4 linked regions of the Homo sapiens genome follow. The protein of the gene in region 1 purifies or fractionates together with the protein of each later gene. This does not show direct contact. Each region holds a gene or a part of one and is shown on either strand. Other genes may lie near its edges. The genes, in order: GBA2, VPS13C, AFG3L2 and SKAP2.

The links.
Region 2: the proteins of GBA2 (region 1) and VPS13C purify together in Homo sapiens (affinity purification with mass spectrometry; one large-scale study listed by BioGRID and IntAct). This does not show direct contact.
Region 3: the proteins of GBA2 (region 1) and AFG3L2 purify together in Homo sapiens (affinity purification with mass spectrometry; one large-scale study listed by BioGRID and IntAct). This does not show direct contact.
Region 4: the proteins of GBA2 (region 1) and SKAP2 purify together in Homo sapiens (affinity purification with mass spectrometry; one large-scale study listed by BioGRID and IntAct). This does not show direct contact.

What each region holds. Positions count from the first base shown.
Region 1 is NC_000009.12:35,737,820-35,743,568, reverse strand, and holds part of GBA2 (non-lysosomal glucosylceramidase), read left to right. Parts: intron 1-242; exon of another isoform or gene 243-276; coding exon of another isoform or gene 277-293; intron 294-1,660; coding exon of another isoform or gene 1,661-1,678; coding exon 1,679-1,897; intron 1,898-2,504; coding exon 2,505-2,744; intron 2,745-2,940; coding exon 2,941-3,043; intron 3,044-3,206; coding exon 3,207-3,360; intron 3,361-3,445; coding exon 3,446-3,571; intron 3,572-3,768; coding exon 3,769-3,941; intron 3,942-4,149; coding exon 4,150-4,254; intron 4,255-4,459; coding exon 4,460-4,567; intron 4,568-4,665; coding exon 4,666-4,817; intron 4,818-4,936; coding exon 4,937-5,043; intron 5,044-5,194; coding exon 5,195-5,337; intron 5,338-5,416; coding exon 5,417-5,532; intron 5,533-5,629; coding exon 5,630-5,749. UniProt on the Homo sapiens protein: Non-lysosomal glucosylceramidase that catalyzes the hydrolysis of glucosylceramides/GlcCers (such as beta-D-glucosyl-(1<->1')-N-acylsphing-4-enine) to free glucose and ceramides (such as N-acylsphing-4-enine).
Region 2 is NC_000015.10:62,052,471-62,058,219, reverse strand, and holds part of VPS13C (intermembrane lipid transfer protein VPS13C), read left to right. Parts: intron 1-5,749. UniProt on the Homo sapiens protein: Mediates the transfer of lipids between membranes at organelle contact sites. Necessary for proper mitochondrial function and maintenance of mitochondrial transmembrane potential.
Region 3 is NC_000018.10:12,355,768-12,361,516, reverse strand, and holds part of AFG3L2 (mitochondrial inner membrane m-AAA protease component AFG3L2), read left to right. Parts: intron 1-1,465; coding exon 1,466-1,590; intron 1,591-2,573; coding exon 2,574-2,847; intron 2,848-4,685; coding exon 4,686-4,823; intron 4,824-5,749. UniProt on the Homo sapiens protein: Catalytic component of the m-AAA protease, a protease that plays a key role in proteostasis of inner mitochondrial membrane proteins, and which is essential for axonal and neuron development.
Region 4 is NC_000007.14:26,734,009-26,739,757, reverse strand, and holds part of SKAP2 (src kinase-associated phosphoprotein 2), read left to right. Parts: intron 1-879; coding exon 880-963; intron 964-5,749. UniProt on the Homo sapiens protein: May be involved in B-cell and macrophage adhesion processes. In B-cells, may act by coupling the B-cell receptor (BCR) to integrin activation. May play a role in src signaling pathway.

The sequences.
Region 1 (5,749 bases):
GTCCAATTAATGACAATACCCTTCCTGGTTCACGTTTACCAGCCCTGCCCATGTCCCAAGATCCCTCTCTGCCTCATCCCTTAGGTATCCTGAGGGGAATGGCTTCCAGAATTGTGACTCTACAATTAAAGTAATTATTGCATGCTTAACATGTGCTAGACACTGTGCTAGGCTCTTTGTATACTGTTTAATATTAAAAACAATCCTACAAGGGAAGTACCACTATTATGCTCATTTTGCAGATGAGGACACTAAGATCCAGAGAGGTTTAGTAACATGCGCAAGGTCACAAGGTTGGTAAATGGAAAGGTTGGGATTCAGAACCATTTCTTTCTGGGGTGAAGAGCTTGTGGTCTTAACCATTATGTACCATTCCAACAAAATGAAAAATTATTTTATACAGTTGTCCCTCAGTATCCATGGGGGGTTGGGCCCAGGACCTGCTATCCGAGGATGCTCAAGTCTTTGATTTGAAATGGCTTATAGTATTTGCAAATAACCATTGCACATCCTCCTATATACTTTAAATCATCTGTAGATTACTTATAATACCTCATACATTGTTACATAAACCCTTGTTGTGCCGTACAGTAAATAAAGTGTGTACATATTCGGTACAGACACAACTTTTTTTCCACATATTTTAGATTTGGTTGGTTGAATCCACTGATGTGGAACTCACAGATATGGAGAGCCCACTGTATACAATAAAAATATTTGACATAGTTTGAACCAGGGAAAGGGATATTAATCCCTCATAGCTCCTACCCTCCAAGAGCTAAAACTTTTTTTGAGAAAATAAGACTTAGGGGAAATGGAGACTGTGAGACCACATCAGTGCTAAAAGGAGAGGGGTGGATAGTATACTGTGGAAAAAGGGACGGTGCTGCAGATTTCGCTCATTCCCTCCACATACATGCCAACTCTGAAGAAGGGTGCATCAGTGAATTAAAAAATGTCCCTACCCTCAGAAGAATCCATACAGCAGTCAGGGACACAGAATGGTCAGTCAATACATTATAACATAATACACCAAATGCTAGAATAGAAGGGGAGGGGGGCACACATAATGACTCACTGCTGGAAGAAGTAGAGGAGGAAGAGATGGCTTTTGACCTAGGCTTTGAAGGATGAGAGGTTTCACCAGATAGCGAACAAGCATGAGCACAGGCATGGAGGAGAGAATGTAGTGTGCTCAAGGAACAGTGAGTGTTTTTATATGAACAGACTATAGGTGCTTGAACAGGTGATGAGTCTGATGGGCAGGGAGAGGCCAGCTCAAGAAGGGCCTTGAAAGCCAGGCAAGAGTTGAGACTTTAGCCTGAGGGCCATGGGGAGTCACTGAAACATCCTAACCAAGGACTGACATATCTTGATTTGCCTGTGAGAAAGATCACTCTGCTACCCAGATGAAAAGGGCCACAGAAAAAGCAGGAGATTGGGCTTAAGTGAGGTGCTAACACCACCGTAGTGGAGAAGGGAGAGAAAGCTTGGGAGATAGATGGATGGGGAGGTAGCAGGACTTGGTGATTCACTGAGCCTGGGGGATGACTTGAAGCTGATGGTGCAGTGGTAACAGTTGCAGGCTCTGAAAGGGGAGGAGCTGATTTGAGGAGAGGGAAGACTTAGTCTGTGGTCCCTGTGGTTTACCCCGTTCCAGCCTATCTGCCCTCTTAAGTTCACAGTGTGCCTGCGTCGGGAAGGGCAGACTGTGTACCAGCAAGTCCTGTCCCTGGAGCGCCCAAGTGTCCTCCGCAGCTGGAACTGGGGCCTGTGTGGGTACTTTGCTTTCTACCATGCCCTCTATCCCCGAGCCTGGACTGTCTATCAGCTTCCTGGCCAGAATGTCACCCTCACCTGCCGTCAGATCACACCCATCTTGCCCCATGACTACCAGGTGAGGCCCCCACATCTGTATCTTCCATTGCCCTCCCTTCCCCAGGACCTGCCTCTGCTAGAAACTGCATGGCCTGCGAGGCGCGGTAGCTCACGCCTGTAATCCCAACACTTTGGGAGGCCAAGGCAGGCGGATCATGAGATCAGGAGATCGAGACCATCCTGGCTAACACGTGAAACCCCATATCTACTAAAAATACAAAAAAAAAAATTAGCTGGGCGTTGTGGCAGGCACCTGTAGTCCCAGCTACTCGGGAGGCTGAGGCAGGATAATGGTGTGAACCCGGGAGGCGGAGCTTGCAGTGAGCCGAGATTGCGCCACCGCACCCCCCAAAAAAAAAAAAAAAGAAACTGCATGGCCTGTGAAAGGGAGGTTGGAGCCATGAACATCACACTGGCTTCCCAGAACCACCGCCCAACTGGTTCTGGTCTTCTATATTCCCTGCTAGGCAGCTTGCCTGGGAATATGGGGAGATGCAAGTGGACAAAAGAAGAGTACACTGGGGAGTATTTGAGTCAGGTCCTCTGTGTGCCCAGGACTGATCCTAGCAGAGTGGGGTCAGGAGGCGCTCTACTGGGACCGTCTGAGTCTAATCTTCTGCCCCCAGGACAGCAGCCTGCCTGTAGGAGTCTTTGTGTGGGATGTGGAAAATGAAGGGGACGAAGCTCTAGATGTGTCCATCATGTTCTCCATGCGGAATGGACTGGGTGGTGGAGACGATGCCCCAGGGGGTTTGTGGAATGAGCCCTTCTGTCTGGAGCGTAGCGGGGAAACTGTCCGGGGGCTGCTCCTGCATCATCCAACCCTTCCAAACCCCTACACGATGGCTGTGGCTGCACGAGTCACGGTAAGGAAAGAGCCTGCCCTATACCTTAGCCCCTGAACCCCACCTCCACCCCAGCATGGTCTCTTCATCCACCCTCATCATACTCCTGTAAGCCCCTGGGCCTGGGAGGTTAAGAGTAAGTAAGAGGAGCTGGGGAGCTAGCCGGGACCCAGTGTACTCGTGGAGCCTGCCCTCACAGTCCCTGACCCCTTCACAGGCAGCTACCACGGTAACCCACATCACAGCCTTTGACCCTGACAGCACGGGGCAGCAGGTGTGGCAGGATCTACTTCAGGATGGACAGCTGGACTCTCCCACTGGTGATGGGGGGTCTGACTGGGAGATGGTGGGAAGAGAGGTTGTCCCTGTCTTGGGACCAGGGGTGGGAGGCCTGGTAATAAGTAGGCCTTGTTTCCATGTTAGGGATCCCTATCCCTGGGGCTGAAGGGGCTCCTGTCCTGAATTCTCTTGTGTTTCTCTCAGGCCAAAGCACCCCTACGCAGAAAGGAGTAGGCATTGCTGGAGCTGTGTGTGTTTCCAGCAAGTTGCGACCTCGAGGCCAGTGCCGCCTGGAGTTTTCACTGGCTTGGGACATGCCCAGGATCATGTTTGGAGCTAAAGGCCAAGTCCACTACAGGTGAGGGGACCAAGAAAGTGTAAGGATCCAGAGTGCTGGGGCTCTGACCTGGGGCTTGTGTTCATCCTTCCCCTTCCCACCCCAGGCGGTATACAAGGTTCTTTGGCCAGGATGGAGATGCAGCACCTGCCCTCAGCCACTATGCACTGTGCCGATACGCAGAGTGGGAAGAGAGGATCTCAGCTTGGCAGAGCCCGGTATTGGATGACAGGTGCCAGTGGGGCCCATTTCTTGCCTTTCTCCTGGGCACTCACTCCAAATGGGACTCCTCGATTTACTCTCCACCCACCAAAGTCAGTAGACTTGCACTGGGATTCATTTGATGATCCCACTCTGCTGAACCCCCAAATCCTTTCCATCTTGGGAGGTACATGTTCCTTAAACCATTTCCTCCTCCTCGCTTCCCAGATCACTGCCTGCCTGGTACAAATCTGCGCTGTTCAATGAACTATACTTCCTGGCTGATGGAGGCACAGTGTGGCTGGAAGTTCTTGAGGACTCCCTACCAGAGGAGCTGGGCAGAAACATGTGTCACCTCCGCCCCACCCTACGGGACTACGGTCGATTTGGCTACCTTGAGGGTACAGGATGCTGGTGGGCTGGGATATGGCAGGCCATCCCCAAGTCAGGATGATGGATTTGCCTACCCCAGGGTATTGGTTAGGATGAGGGGGTGTTGGGTGTGGACTAGTAACAATGCCCCACCTCTAAATCTAGAGGACAAGCTACAGAGGGGTTTGAAGGGGAAGCAGGAATTCTGGCAACAGTGTGTCTCATTCATTCCTCCAGGCCAGGAGTACCGCATGTACAACACATATGATGTCCACTTTTATGCTTCCTTTGCCCTCATCATGCTCTGGCCCAAACTTGAGCTCAGCCTACAGTATGACATGGGTGAGGATCCCTTTTGTGCCGCTTCTGCCCTCTTGGCTCCCCATACCCCCGAACTTCTGTGGTCCCTCAGATTGTCTCTTCTTTCCCTTCCCTTCATACGTATCTGCATGCTGCTTACTGGTTCCCCACTGCAGTCACACACATAGCTGTGTGCCCCTCCTCAGGCATGCCCATTCCCTGCCTCCCTTCTGTGTCTCTCCCCCAGCTCTGGCCACTCTCAGGGAGGACCTGACACGGCGACGGTACCTGATGAGTGGGGTGATGGCACCTGTGAAAAGGAGGAACGTCATCCCCCATGATATTGGGGACCCAGGTAAAAGTCCACCCCAAGGTCAGCTTCCCTCCCTCAACTTTTGCACCCTCTACCCTATCCACCAATGCAAGTGACCCAAGTCCCCTCCTCTCCCACAGATGATGAACCATGGCTCCGCGTCAATGCATATTTAATCCATGATACTGCTGATTGGAAGGACCTGAACCTGAAGTTTGTGCTGCAGGTTTATCGGGACTATTACCTCACGGGTGATCAAAACTTCCTGAAGGACATGTGGCCTGTGTGTCTAGTAAGGGATGCACATGCAGTGGCCAGTGTGCCAGGGGTATGGTTGGTGTCTGGGAAGAGCCTAGCTGGTTGTTGCCTTTCCTCGGTACCTAGGTCTTCAACATCTTGGTCCCTCTCTAGGCTGTGATGGAATCTGAAATGAAGTTTGACAAGGACCATGATGGACTCATTGAAAATGGAGGCTATGCAGACCAGACCTATGATGGATGGGTGACCACAGGCCCCAGGTTAGCGGGTAGGGGTTTCCAGGAGGCCTGAGGTGAGAAACTGGGCAACAAGGGATTGTAGGGCTCAAGAAAGAATGACTCATTGTCTATTACACGGCATGGGAGCAGCTGGAGCTGCCAGTCTGACCCCCAAACCCATGTCCCTGATCAGTGCTTACTGTGGAGGGCTGTGGCTGGCAGCTGTGGCTGTGATGGTCCAGATGGCTGCTCTGTGTGGGGCACAGGACATCCAGGATAAGTTTTCTTCTATCCTCAGCCGGGGCCAAGAAGCCTATGAGAGACTGCTGTGGAATGGTGAGTTCGGGGAGCCTAAGTAGTCTTAAGGCAGCTGAGAGGACACCAGGAGCCTTATTTTTCTCTTCCTCGACTCCAGGCCGCTATTACAACTATGACAGCAGCTCTCGGCCTCAGTCTCGTAGTGTTATGTCTGACCAGTGTGCTGGACAGTGGTTCCTGAAGGCCTGTGGCCTAGGAGAAGGAGACACTGAGGTGAGAGAGGAGGAGGAGCAGCCAGAGAGAAAAATGGGTTTTCCCTGGAGGTGGGAAGTAAGTATATGAGACCATGTTCCTGCCCTTGCCCCTCCAGGTGTTTCCTACCCAACATGTGGTCCGTGCTCTCCAAACTATCTTTGAGCTGAACGTCCAGGCCTTTGCAGGAGGGGCCATGGGGGCTGTGAATGGGATGCAGCCCCATGGTGTCCCTGAT
Region 2 (5,749 bases), on another chromosome or scaffold:
AACGCACCGGAGTAGCAAATCTGAAATCTGAATAGGCCTAGTGAATGGTGTGCTGTGTTGGACAAGCCACTTACCTTATTGGGCCTTAGTTTCTTCATCTTAATTTAAACTTTATAGAAAAAATATTTTTAAATTCTGAAAAGTTTAAATCATACTGGATGATATAATACTTTCATGTAATTACTCATATTTCAATGTTATAATATTATGCCATATTTACTTTAGACATTTTCTTTTTAAAAAGATAAAACGTATGGATATAGTCAGAGGTTCCATTGCCATCAAATGTTACTCTCTTTTATCTTTAAAATTGGAGGTTGGACTAGGTAACATCGAAGGTGATGCCAATATTCTGTTCTTCTGATAATGGTTTTACCATGACATTGAGGAGTATACTGCTTGAAGATTTTGAAGTTTTTCACAACTGAAATTAAAAATGTCGTAATTTTATGTTATTTCCCCTTTTGTCTTTTTTTGGTGAAATCTAGAAAAGGAGACTTTCTTTCATCTCATTTTTAAATTTTTAGAATAAGGTATTCTGCCAGTGGCCAACATTAACTTTATAATAGGCCTGAGCAAATAAACCCATTTCTTTCACATATTGTGTCTAGTGAACATCCAATCAGGGATTCTCCTAGCTTTATCAGCTCACAACTCTGCCTCTGTAAAGCTTTGCTGCCTTTTATTTTTGTGGTTGCTATAAAGCTAGAAGTCACGAGCTTTTATCATTATTGCACAGTCTGTTGTTGATAACCCTAATTTCTCAATAAAATTGGAAGGCAAGATATCTGAGTTGATTTTTCCTGTTCTTTCAAAATATTGCTAAAGAAATTTGTCTTAAACTTTTTTGGGTAAACAAATGGGAATATTAATTTAATAAAATAGGTGACATTTTATGATAACCATGATGTTGACAAGTTTTACAAAAAATTGAAAATTCTATATAATCTTCTTTGACAACTATTTGCTTTAGCAGATAAGGTTTACAGTTCACAGAGTTTTTTTTTTGTTGTTGTTGTTGAATTTTCAAGTCTTGAGAAAGGGAAGAATTCATCTTGTAAATATTTCACTGTAGGGACCAGCCCCACAGGGTCGGTGGGTCTCTCCCTGTGTGCGGCGACGAGAGAGTGTAGAAATAAAGACACAAGACAAAGAGATAAAAGAAAAGACAGCTGGGCCCGGGGGACCGCTACCACCAATGCGCGGAGACCGGTAGTGGCCCCGAATGTCTGGCTGCGCTGTTATTTATTGGATACAAAGCAAAAGGGGCAGGGTAAAGAGTGTGGGTCATCTCCAATGATAGGTAAGGTCACGTGGGTCACGTGTCCACAGGACAGGGGGCCCTTCCCTGCCTGGCAGCCGAGGCAGAGAGAGAGAGGAGACAGAGAGAAAGATAGCTTATGCCGTTATTTCTGCATATCAGAGACTTTTACTACTTTCACTAATTGACTACTGCTATCTAGAAGGCAGAGCCAGGTGTACAGGATGGAACATGAAGGCGGACTAGGAGCGTGACCACTGAAGCACAGCATCACAGGGAGACGGTTAGGCCTCCGGATAACTGCGGGCAAGCCTGACTGATGTCAGGCCCTCCACAAGAGGTGGAGGAGCAGAGTCTTATCTAAACTCCCCCGGGGAAAGGGAGCCTCCCTTCCCTGGTCTGCTAAGTCGCGGGTGTTTTTCCTTGACACTTTTCGCTACCGCTAGACCACCTTCCGCTCGGCAACGGGCGTCTTCCTAGATGCTGGCGTTACCGCTAGACCAAGGAGCCCTTCTGCTGGCCCTGTCCGGGCATAACAGAAGGCTCGCACTCTTGTCTTCTGGTCACACCTCACTATGTCCCCTCAGCTCCTATCTCTGTATGGCCTGGTTTTTCCTAGGTTATGATTGTACAGCGAGGATTATTATAATATTGGGATAAAGAGTAATTACTGCAAACTAATGATTAATGATATTCATATATCTCTAAGATCTATATGGTATAACTATTCTTGTTTTATATTTTATTATACTGGAACAGCTCGTGTCCTTGGTCTCTTGCCTTGGCGCCTGGGTGGCTTGCCGCCCACCTCACATACCTGATCTTACTATTCTTTGGAATCAATTGATAAACTACTTTGATACATCTTAACTGGAATGTCTAACTAGCCTAAAGCAGTGATTTTCAGTGGGAGGTGACTTTGTACCCAGGGTATATTTGACAGTGTCTGAGACTTTTTGGTTGCCACACTGAGGGAAGAGGTGTGCTATTGGCATGTAGCAGATAGACCCTGGAGTACTGCTAAACATTCTACAATGCAGAGGACAACTTCCTGCAGCGAATTGTCCAGCTCAAAATGTTAGTTGAGAAACCCTAGTCTAAGAAGAAGACTGAGATTGTCTTCTGCATTTGTAAGGGACCTACTGGGTGCTGAAAAAATTGTAAGGTTTTAAAAAGGACACGGAAGAAGTAGATTACTCTTAACGAAATCTGTAATTCGAGAGAGAAATTGATATCTTAAGTGACTGAAAGGTATCATGTCAATAAAAATGCGTAATCTTTGCTTGGATGATCTTTGGAAGTAGTTTTAAGATCGAAATATTGTGTTAACATGATTTGGAAAACATCATAGTGTGCATATATTCATATATGTATATATAGGCGTTCATAATGAAATTTACAATTAAAAAAGGTTGAGAGGCCAGGCACCGTGGCTCACACCTGTAATCCCAGCACTTTGGGAGGCCGAGGCAGGCAGATCACGAGGTCAGGAGATCGAGACCATCCTGGCTAACACAGTGAAACCCCGTCTCCACTAAAAAAAAAAAAAAAAAAATACAAAAAATTAGCCGGGCATGGGGGCAGGCGCCTGTAGTCCCAGTTACTCTGGAGGCTGAGGCAGGAGAATGGTGTGAACCTGGGCGGCAGAGGTTGCAGTGAGCAGAGATTGCACCGCTGCACTCCAGCCTAGGTGACAGAGCGAGACTCCCGTCTCAAAAAAAAAAGGTTGAGAAGGTTGGGGAAAATTACTGGAATGTCCAGAATCAGGAAGTATACTTTAGATGTTGCCTTTAAATTTGAGAAGCAAAGCAAACACAGCCTACCATTGTCTTTCTGTTTCTGTTCTTTAAAGATTTTATTTAATGCCAAGCAATTCTTATGTATTTTTAAAAGTAGTTTAAGCAGAATTTCCTTTTAAAAATCCTTGCCACTGTAGATAATTGAGACCTTGGTTATTTATTAGCTGTGGGACCCTGGGCAAAACATTTCAGTTCTCACTCTCGTAATCTGTAAAGTGGATATACAACTTTCAGTGTATTGTTGAGATAGATTATGTCAAAAACCTTTGTCATTGTTGATAATATTGATAATAATAATGATTAACAAACCTGGCTGGGTGATGGAAAACAGTCTTTGTTTTATTTTCATAAGGATGTTTCTTCTAACTTCAGACTTTTAGAGGTATTAATATTCTTCTTCTTCTTCCTCTTCTTTTTTTTTTTTACTTCTACTTTAAGTTCTGGGATACATGTGCAGAATGTGCAGGTTTGTTACATAGGTATACATGTGCCATGGTGGTTTGCTGCACCTATCAACCTGTCATCTAGGTTTTAAGCCCTGCATTATGTATTTGTCCTAATACTCTCCCTCCCCTTGCCTCCCACCTCCTGACAGGCCCTGGTGTGTGATGTTCCCTTCCCTGTGTCCATGTGTTGTCATTGTTCAAATCCCACTTATGAATGAGAACATGTGTTGTTTGGTTTTCTTAGAGGTATCAATCTTCTATTGAGTGATAATTTTGTGTAGAGCTATCATTACATATCTAAACATTTCTTATTTTCCAAACAAATTTCTTTTAAAAAAAACCTCTATTTGCCTTTGAATTTATGCTTATGCTTTTACAGTATTACCTGCCAGCTAGTTTGTAAGTCAGGCTTTCAGAGGTTCAGAAAAGTGCCTGGTGGGTACATACTGCCTACATAAGTAGGAAGGTTTATCTAGATTTTTGTTCCCCACAAACTGGTACCAATAGATAAATTTCACAGCCCTTAGCTATTGAGATGTGTCCAGGATATAATTGTTTTAAGAGTAACATATATTTGAAAAGGTATGTTGAAATGCCTCATCTTTTGCAATATGATTTGAGTAGTATTGTTGCAATGTAGAACCTTTGTCAATTTGATTTTTCAAAATGATTTACTGTGGAGAGTCAGCAGGAAAATCCTCCAGTACTCGGAACTCTGTTGTTCTTAATTCCACTGGACAGGTGGAATCAACATAGGAACTGTGATGTGTTAGATACAAGGGTGACTCTGGTGACCAGGAATAGAAGCCAAGTGCAATGCCCTCAGAATCTGTGGCCCTGCAAACCAGACTGAACCCGTGCTGTTTATCCCACTCCTGACAGTTTATCCCACTCTTGACACTTCCCCTTGAGCTGCCAGATATTGTTGGAGCAGTGCAGCATAAGAAAGGAGAATGAACACTGGACTGGGAATGAGCAAACCTCTTTAATCTTATTCCATCTCTGATTCTGTCTAGTTGTGTGGCTTTTGGCATGTCTCTGACAAGTGACCATTGGTTGCTTATCTGTAAGTGGAAAGGTTAGACAAGGTCATCTCTTCTGTCTTTAAACTTCTGTGATTTGAGCAAGGCAAGAACAACGTGAGATCCTTCATTGGATGAGTGGTACTGCCACTTCCTCCGCATTCATAGAGAGAAAAGGTAGTTAAATAATGTATCTTTATCTTTCCTTTTTGCTCTTCACCCGATATTGGTGAGTAAAGAGCCACAGTCAATGACAGTGACAAGATAAATGAAGTTCCAGGCTCATGCTGATATTTGTGGGTCCAAGTGTAATATACTGTAATATATTGTCTTAACAGGTACCTGTAGGGCAGCTTGAGAATGAAAGAAAAAGCAGCTCTTTTTGCTTTTTTTGGCTTTGACACATAAAAGATGTCAGTATCTAGGTATTTCTAAACCTGTAGAGGGATTTTCTTTAGTCTTTTCCTCCCAGCCAGCACTTGGTGTAGTGGAGGCCACATTTCTCATTAGCTTGTCCTATGGCATATAAAAGTAAACAATAATGAAAAGGTCATTAGTGTAATACATATTTAGGCTCAGTTACTACCAGTTAAAGCGGTGCTTAAAAATTTAAATTTAAGCACCTGTTCACATATTTAAGTAGCATTACTAATTAAAAATTAACTCCTTTTCTAGAACTAAAACTGAGAATTGGTATTTTGGTAACCATTCTGCTAGGAAGCTCTACCACATTACTCAATATTATGGGATCCCTGAAGTGAACTGAAAGGGAGAAAGTTCAGTGGTGATGTTGCAGCTTTCTACCTTCCTTTGTCAAAACTTCCTGTTTCAGTAGGGAAATGGGAAGAGTGAGAGAGTTGTTTCCTTTCTCTTTCCTGTCTTCCTCTCTGAAGACAAAGTCACTGTGAACTCATTAAAAGGAGTCTAGATTGGTTAATTTGGGTTGACTAGCTAGATTCATTTGAAATGAATAGCTATAATATTTTCTTTGGTATTCTTTTTTTTTTTTTTTTTTTTTTGAGACGGAGTCTTGCTTTGTCGCCCAGGCTGGAGTGCAGTGGCACAATCTCGGCTCACTGCAAGCTCTGCCTCCTGGGTTCACGCCATTCTCCTGCCTCAGCCTCCACAGTAGCTAGGACTACAGGCACCCGCCACCACGCCTGGCTAATTTTTTTGTATTTTTTAGTAGAGACGGGGTTTCACCGTATCAGGATGGTCTTG
Region 3 (5,749 bases), on another chromosome or scaffold:
GCCACCATGCCTGGCTAATTTTTTGTATTTTTAGTAGAGACGGGGTTTCACCATCTTGACCAGGCTCATCTTGAGCTCCTGACCTTGTGATCCACCCGCCTTGGCCTCCCAAAGTGTTGGAATTACAGGCGTGAGCCACTGCACCCGGCCTTGTTTTTTATTTTGAAATGGAGTCTCGCTCTGTTGCCCAGACTGGAATGCAGTGGCACAATCTTGGCTCACTGCAACCTGTGCCTCCCAGGTTCATGCCTCCCAAGTAGCTGGGCCTATAGGTGGGTGCCACCATGCCTAGCTAATTTTTGTAGTTTTAGTAGAGACAGTTTGAGACCATGGTGGCCAGGGGGGTCTCAAACTCCTCACCTCAGGTGATCTGCCACCTGGGCTTCCCAAAGTGCTGGGATTACTGGCCACTGTGCCCAGCCTCTCTAATGAGTTTTATATGATAGACTTACTGTTTTGATTTAAAAAATACTTTTCTAAAAAAAGATGATTGCAGGTTAGAGGAGAAACAAAGTTTTTTTGTACTATAAAATGGAGCTAATACATGCACAGTGCTTGAAATGGGGTCTTCTAGCTAGTAAACTCCATAAATGTGAGCTGTTAAAATCAGTGTCCTCATGGTTGTGTAAAGGCAGTGTGACATTGTGGTTAGGACACTGGTTCAGGAGCCAGACTGTCTGGGTTCAGATCCCAGCCTCTTATTTCATGTGTGACCATGAGCAAGTTTTGTCATCTGTAGAATGGAAACAGGAGTCAGGGCTCATATTCAGTCAGTAGACACGAGTACAATAGGAAATAATTATGTGCTGATTGGTAGAATAGCCTTGACCTGGCCCCTGAGGTGTCCCTGTGCTGGGCCCTCTGGGTCTCTGCAGCTCTAGAGAATAAAGAGGGAGTGCCTGGCACAGCAAGGCGCATCTGTTCCAGTTGCACAGTGGGGTGCGGTGCTCGGATTTTGAACATCACCCCCAGTGATGGCACCTGCTTCTTAGGATGGTCCTCAGGATTGAATGAACTAATGCATCTGAAGGGCCCAGAACAATGCCTGGTACTTAGTACATGCCCAGTAAACTTTAGCTCTTATCCCTGTTTCACAGTAGTTTTAAATTTGGGAATAGGGAGCTAAAATACCTAGGAAATAGAGGAAGAGGGAAATAATGCATATTTATTTTAAAAAGGATTACGTTTTCAAATAGGTTTTTCATTCTGTTTTTTGAGTTTATAATTTTAGAGCCACTGAGATATTGCTGCTAAAGAAATGCTTATTTGCCAAGAATTGCCAAGTGTTCTCAATGAGTGACATTTAATCACCACCATTATTAAAGCCAGTCTTTTATTATTGTTTATTCTTTAATTTATAAATTTTCAGTATTTCTGGAAAATTCTTAAAAAGTTGAACCGTTTAGTGAATTGAACCTTTTAGTTTCACTACATTCTTAGGATATTTGTTTTTTTGTTTTTATAGCAATACGTTTGGTTTAATATTGGCAGTGTGGACACCTTTGAACGGAATCTGGAAACTTTACAGCAGGAATTGGGCATAGAAGGAGAAAATCGGGTGCCTGTTGTCTACATTGCTGAAAGTGATGGGTAATCTCAAATATAATATTTTGTAGACTGTTGACTGTGCTGCCTGTGGTTCACTGTGTTCTGTCCCTGGGTGCAGGGCTATACATTATATTCTCAAACAGGCCTTTATCAGTTTGGCCAGATTTTTAAAAAACTATTAGTAACTCACTAGTTTTTGCATGACTCATTCATTTTCTTTTTTTTTTGAGGTGGGGTTTCGCTCTGTCGCCCAGGCTGTAGTGCAGTCGTATGATCTTGACTCACTGCAACCTTTGTCCCCACCCCAGTTCACGCGATTCTCCTGCCTCAGTCTCCAGAGTAGCTGGGATTATAGGCTTCCACCACCATGCCCAGCTAATTTTTGTATTTCTAGTAGAGGCAGGGATTCACTATGTTGGCCAGGCTGGTCTTGAACTCCTGACTTCAGGTAATCCACCTGCCTCCGCCTCCCAAAGTGCTGGGATTACAGTTGTGAGCCACCACACCTGGCTTTTTATCTTTATTTTTATTTTTATTTTTATTTTTGATTCATTCCTTTTGTACACATTTATACTTATCTTGATGAAGCAGTGGTTTAGGGTATTAACATTCAATGCATTGACCTTTGGTAGGATTTTAGCATAAAGAACCCCTTTGTATCAAAGAGTGCCATTCCCATCTTTGAACTATCATTTATGTTTACATTTCACAGTTTTCCAGGATTTTTAGGTGATTCTTCTCTCATCAGAACTTCTTCTTTGGGGGTTGTCTTTAATAAGACCATGTTAGTAACCCCACTTAAAGTCTGGGCAGATGCTCCATTTATTTCGAAGAGTTGGTTGCCATGGAGCTTATTTGGGAATTCTGTTGCCTTTGAAGAACACTTGCAAGTTACCCTCCTTTGTATTAAGTGCAGAAGGTATACCTTGGTGTAGCTATATATATTTATATTGATATCTTGCACCACATGTGAAAGCTGGAGGTGAGCAGCCAGTCCTAACCCGTGTTGCGCTGTGTGTCCCCAGCTCTTTTCTGCTGAGCATGCTGCCTACGGTGCTCATCATCGCCTTCTTGCTCTACACCATCAGAAGAGGGCCTGCTGGCATTGGCCGGACAGGCCGAGGGATGGGCGGACTCTTCAGTGTCGGAGAAACCACTGCCAAGGTCTTAAAGGATGAAATTGATGTGAAGTTCAAAGATGTGGCTGGCTGTGAGGAGGCCAAGCTAGAGATCATGGAATTTGTGAATTTCTTGAAAAACCCAAAGCAGTATCAAGACCTAGGAGCAAAAATCCCAAAGGTAAAATGAAATTTAAGATTAACTTTTTGAAATGTTTCTTGATCTCTGAAGTTATAATTCTGTGAAGTTTGATTACTTATTATAGATAGCTGTTTTTCTGTCCTTCCTCTTTCTCAGCTTACTAGGCTAGCCTCTGCCCAACTCGAGGATCGTTTTGGGTCAGTTCTGTGTGCATGTGTCTTGTATAGTGTATGTATTCCTGAAAATATCTGTGTCACCTCCTCTTGGAAGATTTTCTTGATTCGTCTTCCTTTTCCCTCCAATCTGATTTAGATGCCCTATCTCTCAGCAACTGTAGGCCCGCTGTAGCTCACTGACAATGTCACACTCTGCTGTCACCCAGTGTCCCTTCGAGGGATGTATGTGGACAGGACACCTGTGCTGGCGCTGAGGTTCACGGCACAGGATCCAGTGGAGAGGACACAGCACTCACCATCACCTTCCCCTTTCCAGCAAATATGCTCTTGCCCACTGTGCTAGTGGTGGGCTGTACCCTACAGGGCTTGGTGCCCCTAGGGCTAGGCGTGGAGCATTAACTTCATATTTGTTAAATGGATCAGCTATTAAGTAAATGAATAAAAAGGTATAATTCTTTTAAAAGTCCATGAATAAATTTTACTTTAAAGGAATCCTTTGAAAGATAATCATTTCCTTGATTTTTATGTCTTACTTCTATAGATAAAAAGTCATATTTTATGAATTTATAACTTACTTAGTACCCGTTTGCATTACACCTAACTGTCTCTACAACTTAATATAATAGTTGTGTAGGGCCAGGCGCAGTGGCTCACTCCTGTAATCCCAGCACTTTGGGAGGCTGAGGTGGGTGGATCACCTGAGGTCAGGAGTTCGAGACCAGCCTGGCCAACATGGTGAATCCCTGTCTCTACTAAAAATACAAAAAATTAGCTGGGCATGGTGTTGTGCGCCTGTAATCCCAGCTGCTCAAGAGGCTGAGGCAGGAGAATCGCTTCAACCTGGGAGGTGGAGGTTGCAGTGAGCCGAGATCGTGCCATTGCACTCCAGCCTGGACAAGAGTGAAACTCTATCTCAAAAAAAAAAAAGTGTATTGTTTGAGCAAACACATCTTTCTTTGAAGTTAAGTTCATCATTGGTCGTTAGATTTCTACTTCATTTGTGAAACTTTTAAAGAAGAAAATAAGCAAAATTTTAAAAATACCTTAAGGTTTTATTACAAAGCCTAGAAAAAATATCATTTGACCATATTATCTACCTCCTCACAGTATTTGGATATGGTAGTGTGGTAGTATGTCTATAAATAAGAGAGGATACTGTTTGTGGGTAGTCAGTGGAAATAAAAACAAATTCACAGTTAGGTTTTAAGTTGCACGTCCAACCATGCTAAAAATGTACTGATTTGTACATGAAAGTAGAAGTCAGAAGTTGGGTTTATTAATTATTTGAGCTCAAAAACCAATTTTACTTGTAAAGAGTAAAAGAATTACATAAATCAGGAGTGTGGTGTTGGTGTCTTCTTAAATTATTTAAGTAAACCTTAGCAGATTTATTAGTATATTCCTAGCCCAAGTCACCCTTTACATACTGTTAGACTAAAGGTCTAAAAATCAGCCCTAGGAAAAAAAGGAAATATTTTAAATTTCACATTCTTACCAAATTTTTTGAAACAAAATTATTTTTGATAATCTTTTTATTCTTACTAATATAAAAATGTTCTACCATAGCTCAGATGTTTAAGTAATATTTAATATATATCAATAAGATTTAGAGACAGAGTTATATCTTGTAATTATTTGTGGATACACAATTTACTTTTCTGGAATTCTCATTAAATGTAATTTCTTTTTTCATATCTGAAGGGTGCCATTCTCACTGGTCCTCCAGGCACTGGGAAGACGCTGCTAGCTAAGGCCACAGCCGGAGAAGCCAATGTCCCCTTCATCACCGTTAGTGGATCTGAGTTTTTGGAGATGTTCGTTGGTGTGGGCCCTGCTAGAGTGAGTCTCATTCTGTTCGGATGGTACAGCTTCCTTGCACCCACCACTTCACCACAGATGGAGGCACTTGCTAGAGATGGCCCTTCCCCCTAGAGTGCTAGAGTGACCTCTCACCAGTCCCTGGCCTGAGCTCTCCTCCAGGCCTAAGACTTCAGCAAGGCCTGTGACTTCCACCCCACCTTCCCTCGCACCAGCTAGGACTGCAGTCTGCTACCTATAGTAGACCAATTTAAAGAATTGACGGCTGGGCGCGGTGGCTCATGCCTGTAATTCCAGCACTTTGGAAGGCTGAAGTGGGTGGAACGCTTGAAGTCAGGAGTTCGAGACCAGCCTGGCCAACATGGCGAAACCCTGTCTGTACTAAAAATAGAAAAATTAGCCAGGCGTGGTCGCGCATGCCTATAATCCCAGCTATTTCGGAGGCTGAGGCAGGAGAATCTCTTGAACCCAGGCGGCAGAAGTTGCAGTGAACCAAGATGACACCACTGCATTCCAGCCTGGGCAACAGAGTGAGACGCTGTCTCAAAAAAAAAAAAAAAATTTTGCTTTATTTGTGGATTTTTTTTTTTTTTGGTGACAACATTTATTGAGATATAATTGACATACCAAACAATTGATCCCTGTAAAGTATACAGTTCAGTAGCTTTTAGTAATTCACAGATTTGTGCAACCATCACCACAATCAGTTTTACAACATTTCCATTACATCAAGAAGAAATCGTGGCCGGGCGTGGTGGCTCACACTTGATATCCCAGCACTTTGGGAGGCCAAGGCAGGCGGATCAGGAGGTCTGGAGATCGAGACCATCCTGGCTAACATGGTGAAACACCATCTCTACTAAAAAAACAAAACCAAAATTAGCCATGCGTGGTGGCGGGCGCCTGTAGTCCCAGCTACTTGGGAGGCTGAGGCAGGAGAATGGCGT
Region 4 (5,749 bases), on another chromosome or scaffold:
GATGACATTATCCAAACCACAAAATATAGCTCTTAGCTTTAAATAATTTTTAATAAGAAAACATTAGGTTAGGTTTTTAGTTGTCAACCTTGGTTATTTGTAAATGATTCAGGAGCTGTTTCCTGCCTCTCAAAGGAAAGCTGCAGGCCATGACTGTATTCTCAAAGGTGGGATTTCTCACCAGTATCTCAATGGGCTGAGCAGCAGGTTCTCCTATGCCCAAACTGGCATGCACCATGGTTCAGATCAAGCCTGGAGTTTTGTCTGCCATTGTCTATTATTCATTTCAGTGTTCCTCTCCATTGGCTATGATAATTGGGAGTTGACCATATGGTCTCACTCTTTCAACACCAATATTTAATGGAAATGAAATATGGAGGTGGTTTTATAATATGAGAAATGAAAAGCAGACAGTCTTTTCATTACCATTCTGCTTATCTCTCTTGTAGTCCCTTTAGGCCTTTCTATTTATATTTCATTTTGCTTTTCTTAGCTTTCTTAGCTGAATTTTAAAACTGAAAGAGATAACAGAAATAATCTAGGTTAGCTCCTCCCCTTCTTTTTATAACAGATGAGAAAATGAGACCCAGATGGATCAATTATCTCAAGACTGTATAGTCAGATACCTTTTTGACTGTCCCTGTCAGAAAACTTTGTTAGCCATGCTGTTGATCCCATAAGTATGGCAGCCCCATAGCTACTTTACTTTATTCCCTTTAGCTGTGTTGGTTTGTTGTTGTTTGGTTTTTTGTCTCTTGGAAAAGAAGATACAAATTAGTCACACAATGTTAGAGCTCAGAGGAATCTTAGAAATCATATTAATTAACTTTTTCTTTTACAGTAAGGAAATGGCCTTACATTTTCCCCTCTTTATTGCAGATCACAGCTTTCTGGGATTTGAATGGCAGAAACGGTGGTGTGCTCTCAGTAAAACGGTATTCTATTATTATGGAAGTGATAAAGGTAATGTTGGTGTTCAATTATATCAACTACTATTGCAAAAGAATTTTTGGCCATCCCTTCCCCCTCTTTTGAGTACAGAGTAAACTGAAGACAAACTAATAATAACTGAGAATTATAACAATTATAATCTGACTAATTTATGATTCATTTCATTATTTGACAAATGCTCCAAATACCAGAATACCCTCAGAGCTAAAACAATTGTGTTGTATTGAATTAGAAAAGAGAGTAAAATAACTTTAATCTGTGTGGCCTTTCACCTTAGGGAATATTTATTATCCAGCCTACTGTTGTAGAATTTCTGGAAAAGTTAAGAACATAGGGTTGTGAGAGTTTCAATGGCAGAAAATAGATTATTTTTCTTAAATATTTTAAAATAAAATTAGATAAAATTAAATACGAACAGCACCTTTCTGAGCTCCCTTTACAGATTTAAGGAATAACAGCAAACGTGTACATAGAATTTACTATATACTGGGCACCGTTCTAAGCACTTTGTCTAAGTACGTTAGCTATGTTAACTTGTTTAGCTCACAACAACTCTGTAAGTACTATTATTAGCACCATTAATTTGACTTTTAGGAAAACTGAGAACAGAGAGGTTAAGTGACTTGTTCAAGGTCACAGAGTTGGAAAATGGCAGATCTAGGAATTTGTTTTTCCTTTGTTTTTAGAAACAGGGTCTTGTCTCGGTGCCTAGGCTGGAGAGCTGTGACTGTTCACAGGTGTAGTCATCACACCCTGCAGCCTCAAACTCCTGGGCTCAAGTGATCTTCCTGTCTCAGTCTCCCAGGTAGCTGGGATTACAGGTGCACACCGCTGTACCCAGCTCAAATTTGGGATTTTAACCTAGAGAATATGGTTAGAGTCCATGTTCTCAACCACTATTGTCACTACATTAATTTAGAAATAATAGGATACATTTTATAACTTCATTGTTAATTAATAAATCTCTCAGTTGTAGTTCACATAATTTTAAGATTGTTATTTGAACAAATAAAGCCACCAAATAATGAAATTTAAAGATTGTAAGCTTTCTGAGTTTTGTTTTATTCTGGGGAAAACAGGCTAGGAGTTGAATATTATAAAGTAAAGGTTGTATCAAAATAGATAATGTTCATTTCCAGAAAGGACACTTTAAGAAGAAAAAGGCAAAAGTATCACTGAATGTAAGCTTTCCTATGGAATTGTTATCAGTGTTGTTTGGAAATTTATGTTTTATTTGACATTATTTATAGTTTTTAGAGTTTTTTCCCCCATTCTAAAAACATACAGGTAAGATTGTCATATTTCAGATAAGTCTGAAATACTTACATAATGCTGGAAGTTGTTCTTACCTTTTGGCTAATGAGATTAACAAATTAATTAATTTAGTAGCTAGTTTGCATTCCATCACTAATTTACAGTATGTTCAGATGTAGTAATGGCATCAGTGAAGTGTAAACTGTAAACAGCTATAAACAAGCATCTTTCTTCTGCTAAGGGTCAGTAGTGAAGTAGGTCAGAAAATTTAGAGTCCAAGTTCAGTTACGATTATCACAGATCATAGAAATATAGTTTTGTATGATATTGTGAATTTAGATCGAGATACTACCTTCCACAAAATATCCTCTTTTTCACCAGACCAGGGGAGGGAGGTTTCAGATCCTTGTGACTTTGATTCAATTAGGCTTCTCATTTCTAATTTCTTTAAGAATCAATGAATACTAATGTCAGTGTTTCCTCCATTTCTAGTCCTGACTGGCATATAACAATGGTTAGGTCAAAGATTAGCAAGAGTTTCCCCAAAACCCAAAGCGTGTTAATATTTACTTCAAACACTAATATATTCAATGAAAACATTTTAGTTAGAGTTATTTAGATATTAGTTACATTCCTTTTTTTTTTTTTCTTTTTAGAGATGCGGGGGCCTCACTCTGTCACCCAAGCTGGAGTGCAGTGGTGCCATCATAGCTTACTGCAATCTTGAATTCCTGAGTTCATTTTTATTCTTATTTGATGAGACCTAATGGTAGTAACATTGTTTGTAATTTGCATTTTAACTACTTTGTGATCCATTTAGCCCTTTCTGTCATTTCTGTTACTGGAAGGGGGTCTTGATCCAGACCCCAGGAGAGGGTTCTTGGATCTCATGCAAGAAAGAATTTGAGGCCAATCCGTAGAGGGAAGTGAAAGCAAGTTTATTAAGAAAGTAAAGAAACAAAAGAATCACTACTCCATAGGCAAAGCAGAGCATAGGCTGCTCAGCTGCTTACACTTATTGTTACTTCTTGATTATATGCTAAACAGGCAGTGGATTATTCATGAGTTTTCCTGAACTGGGGTTGGCAATTCTCAGAACTGAGGGTTTCTCCCCCTTTTTAAGCCATATAGGGTAACTTCCTGATGTTGCCATGGCATTTGTAAACTATCATGGCACTGGTAGGAGTGTCTTTTAGCATGCTAATGCGTTATAATTAGCATATAATGAGCAGTGAGGAAAACCAAAGGTCATTTTCATCACCATCTTGATTTTGGTGGGTTTTGGCCAGTTGCTTTCCTGCATCCTTTTATCAGCAAGGTCTTTGTGATCTGTACCTTGTGCCAACCTCCTATCTCATCATGTGACTAAGAATGCCTAACCTCCTGGGAATGCAGCCCCCATAGGTCAAAGCCTTATTTTACTCAGCCCCTATTCAAGACGGAGTTGCTCTGGTTTAAAAGCCTCTGACACTTCCACTTTAAAAAAATTACCATTTTAGCATTCCTTTTTCATGTTGATGTCTGAAGATGTGGCTTGTGTTTCCTTAAATTTTTCCCTTTTACTTTGCAGCCTCCTGTTTCCAGTGAAATTTTAGATTTGTTTCTTGTGGTTCTTTTTTCTATTGGCGGTTTCATTCGAAATTTTTAGCCAGTTCCTCTCTTTTAAGGGACTCCAAAAAAAGATCTGTCTTTAGACAGTTTTTAATTACTTGTTTGGCATGATCCCGATTTCCTTCCTTTATATCTTTTTCTTACCAGGAAAATATGTCAAATAATTTTTTTCTTTTGTGAAATTAGATATGATTTTTTATAGCCTTGTTTACTGTATGTGTGAACCATTTACCTAATGGGAAGAACTCATATCTAGCTATATGAGAACTATAATCCTCCAACTAAGTAGGATTTAGATAAATGGATTATAGAGGCACAGAAGGAGTTGACACCACTTACTAGGTTAAACTGTGCTTTGTTACTGTTTGACAGATACATAGTTCACATTTTCTACCATATTGCGTGTGCCAAAAAACATATTGACCTATCAAGATAGGAGTGGCTTAGAAAGAGTAGTTCCAACCTGTTGGGTAAATAATGCACTTACCATTGTACCAATAAATATTGTCTGTATTTATTATTTATAGCCATTTGGGACCCTTAAGTAACAAATACATATAGTATGTATTTTAACACCTTATGAAATCTTATTCATCCTTTCATATCCTTCCTTTTCCTTTGATTGTCGTGAGTCTTATTCATCAAAATTCTTAGGTCCTAGATGTTCAGATGTCCTTCAAGTCATTCATTCATTCATTCACTTACTCATTCTTTTTCTAAATTTGATAAATATTTTTTCAGGCACTTGTTAGCTAGTAGGCACTGAGGATCCAAAGATCCTTAGAGGTGCTCACAGTTTGGGTTTTGTGGATATCAGTGAGAGAGGGAAGGATGCTGTGGGGTTGGAGGAGGGAGCTGGGCAGGTAAACTGACCATTTCAATGCAGTACAGTAAGTAATTTAAATAAGGTATCTTTGGATCACAAAGGAGGGAAACTAATTGCCTAGGGAAGTTAGGGAAGATGTCCTGGTGGAGAGAACACTTCATTGGGCCTGAAAGAATGAGTAGGAGTTTGTTGGTTGAATGCTATGGTGTGAATGTATGTGTACCTCCAAAATTCATATGTTGGAAATTAACTCCCAAGGATATTGTATTAAGAGCTGGGGCTTTTGGGAGGTGATTAAGGCATGAGGGCTTTACCCTCAAGAATGGGATATGTCTCTATAAAAAAGGCTAGAGAGAGCTGTGGAACCCCTCTCTTGCCTTTCCGCCATGTGACGGTACAGCATTCAACTCTTCTGGGGGATGCAGCAACAAGGTGGCATCTTGAAGCAGAGAGCAGCCCTCACTAGGCACTGACCCTGCTGGTGCCTTGATCTTGGACTTCCCAGCTCCCAGAACTGTGAGAAATAAATTTCTATTGTTTATAAATTTCCCAGTTTTGGGTATTATAGCAGCATAAACAGACTAAGACAGGGAAGAAGGGTAAAATGGGCTTTCCAGGTAAGGGAATAGCAGAGATTCTGAGTTGTGAAAGACTGTGGATGGGATCAAAAATGGAATGAAGGCTGGAGCTTAGAATGAGTGAGGGGAGGGAGCACGTAAGGCTAAATAAGTGGATTAGACCAGGTTGGTAAGAACCTTCTGAGAATAAGGGCCTTGCTAAAGATTTTATTTTGAATATGACCTTTAAGCAGAGGATTGTATGACCAGATTTGGTTTTTAGGAAGTAATTGTAATAGGATGATGGAGAATGGATTGGGATGGATAGAGTCTGGGTCAACAGGACCATTTAGCAGGACTTCGAAGTAGTCTAAACAAGAGAGGTCAACACAGGGCTGTTGAGAGGCAGAGCGAGGATTTAATGCAGATCTCTCTGCCTCCAAAGTTATGCTTTTTCTACAACTTGATGATTATTACCAACCCCTCCAAGGTGCCCATAAGTGGTGGACCATTTAGGAACCTGTTCTAAACTATTGTGTGTTTTTTCCCT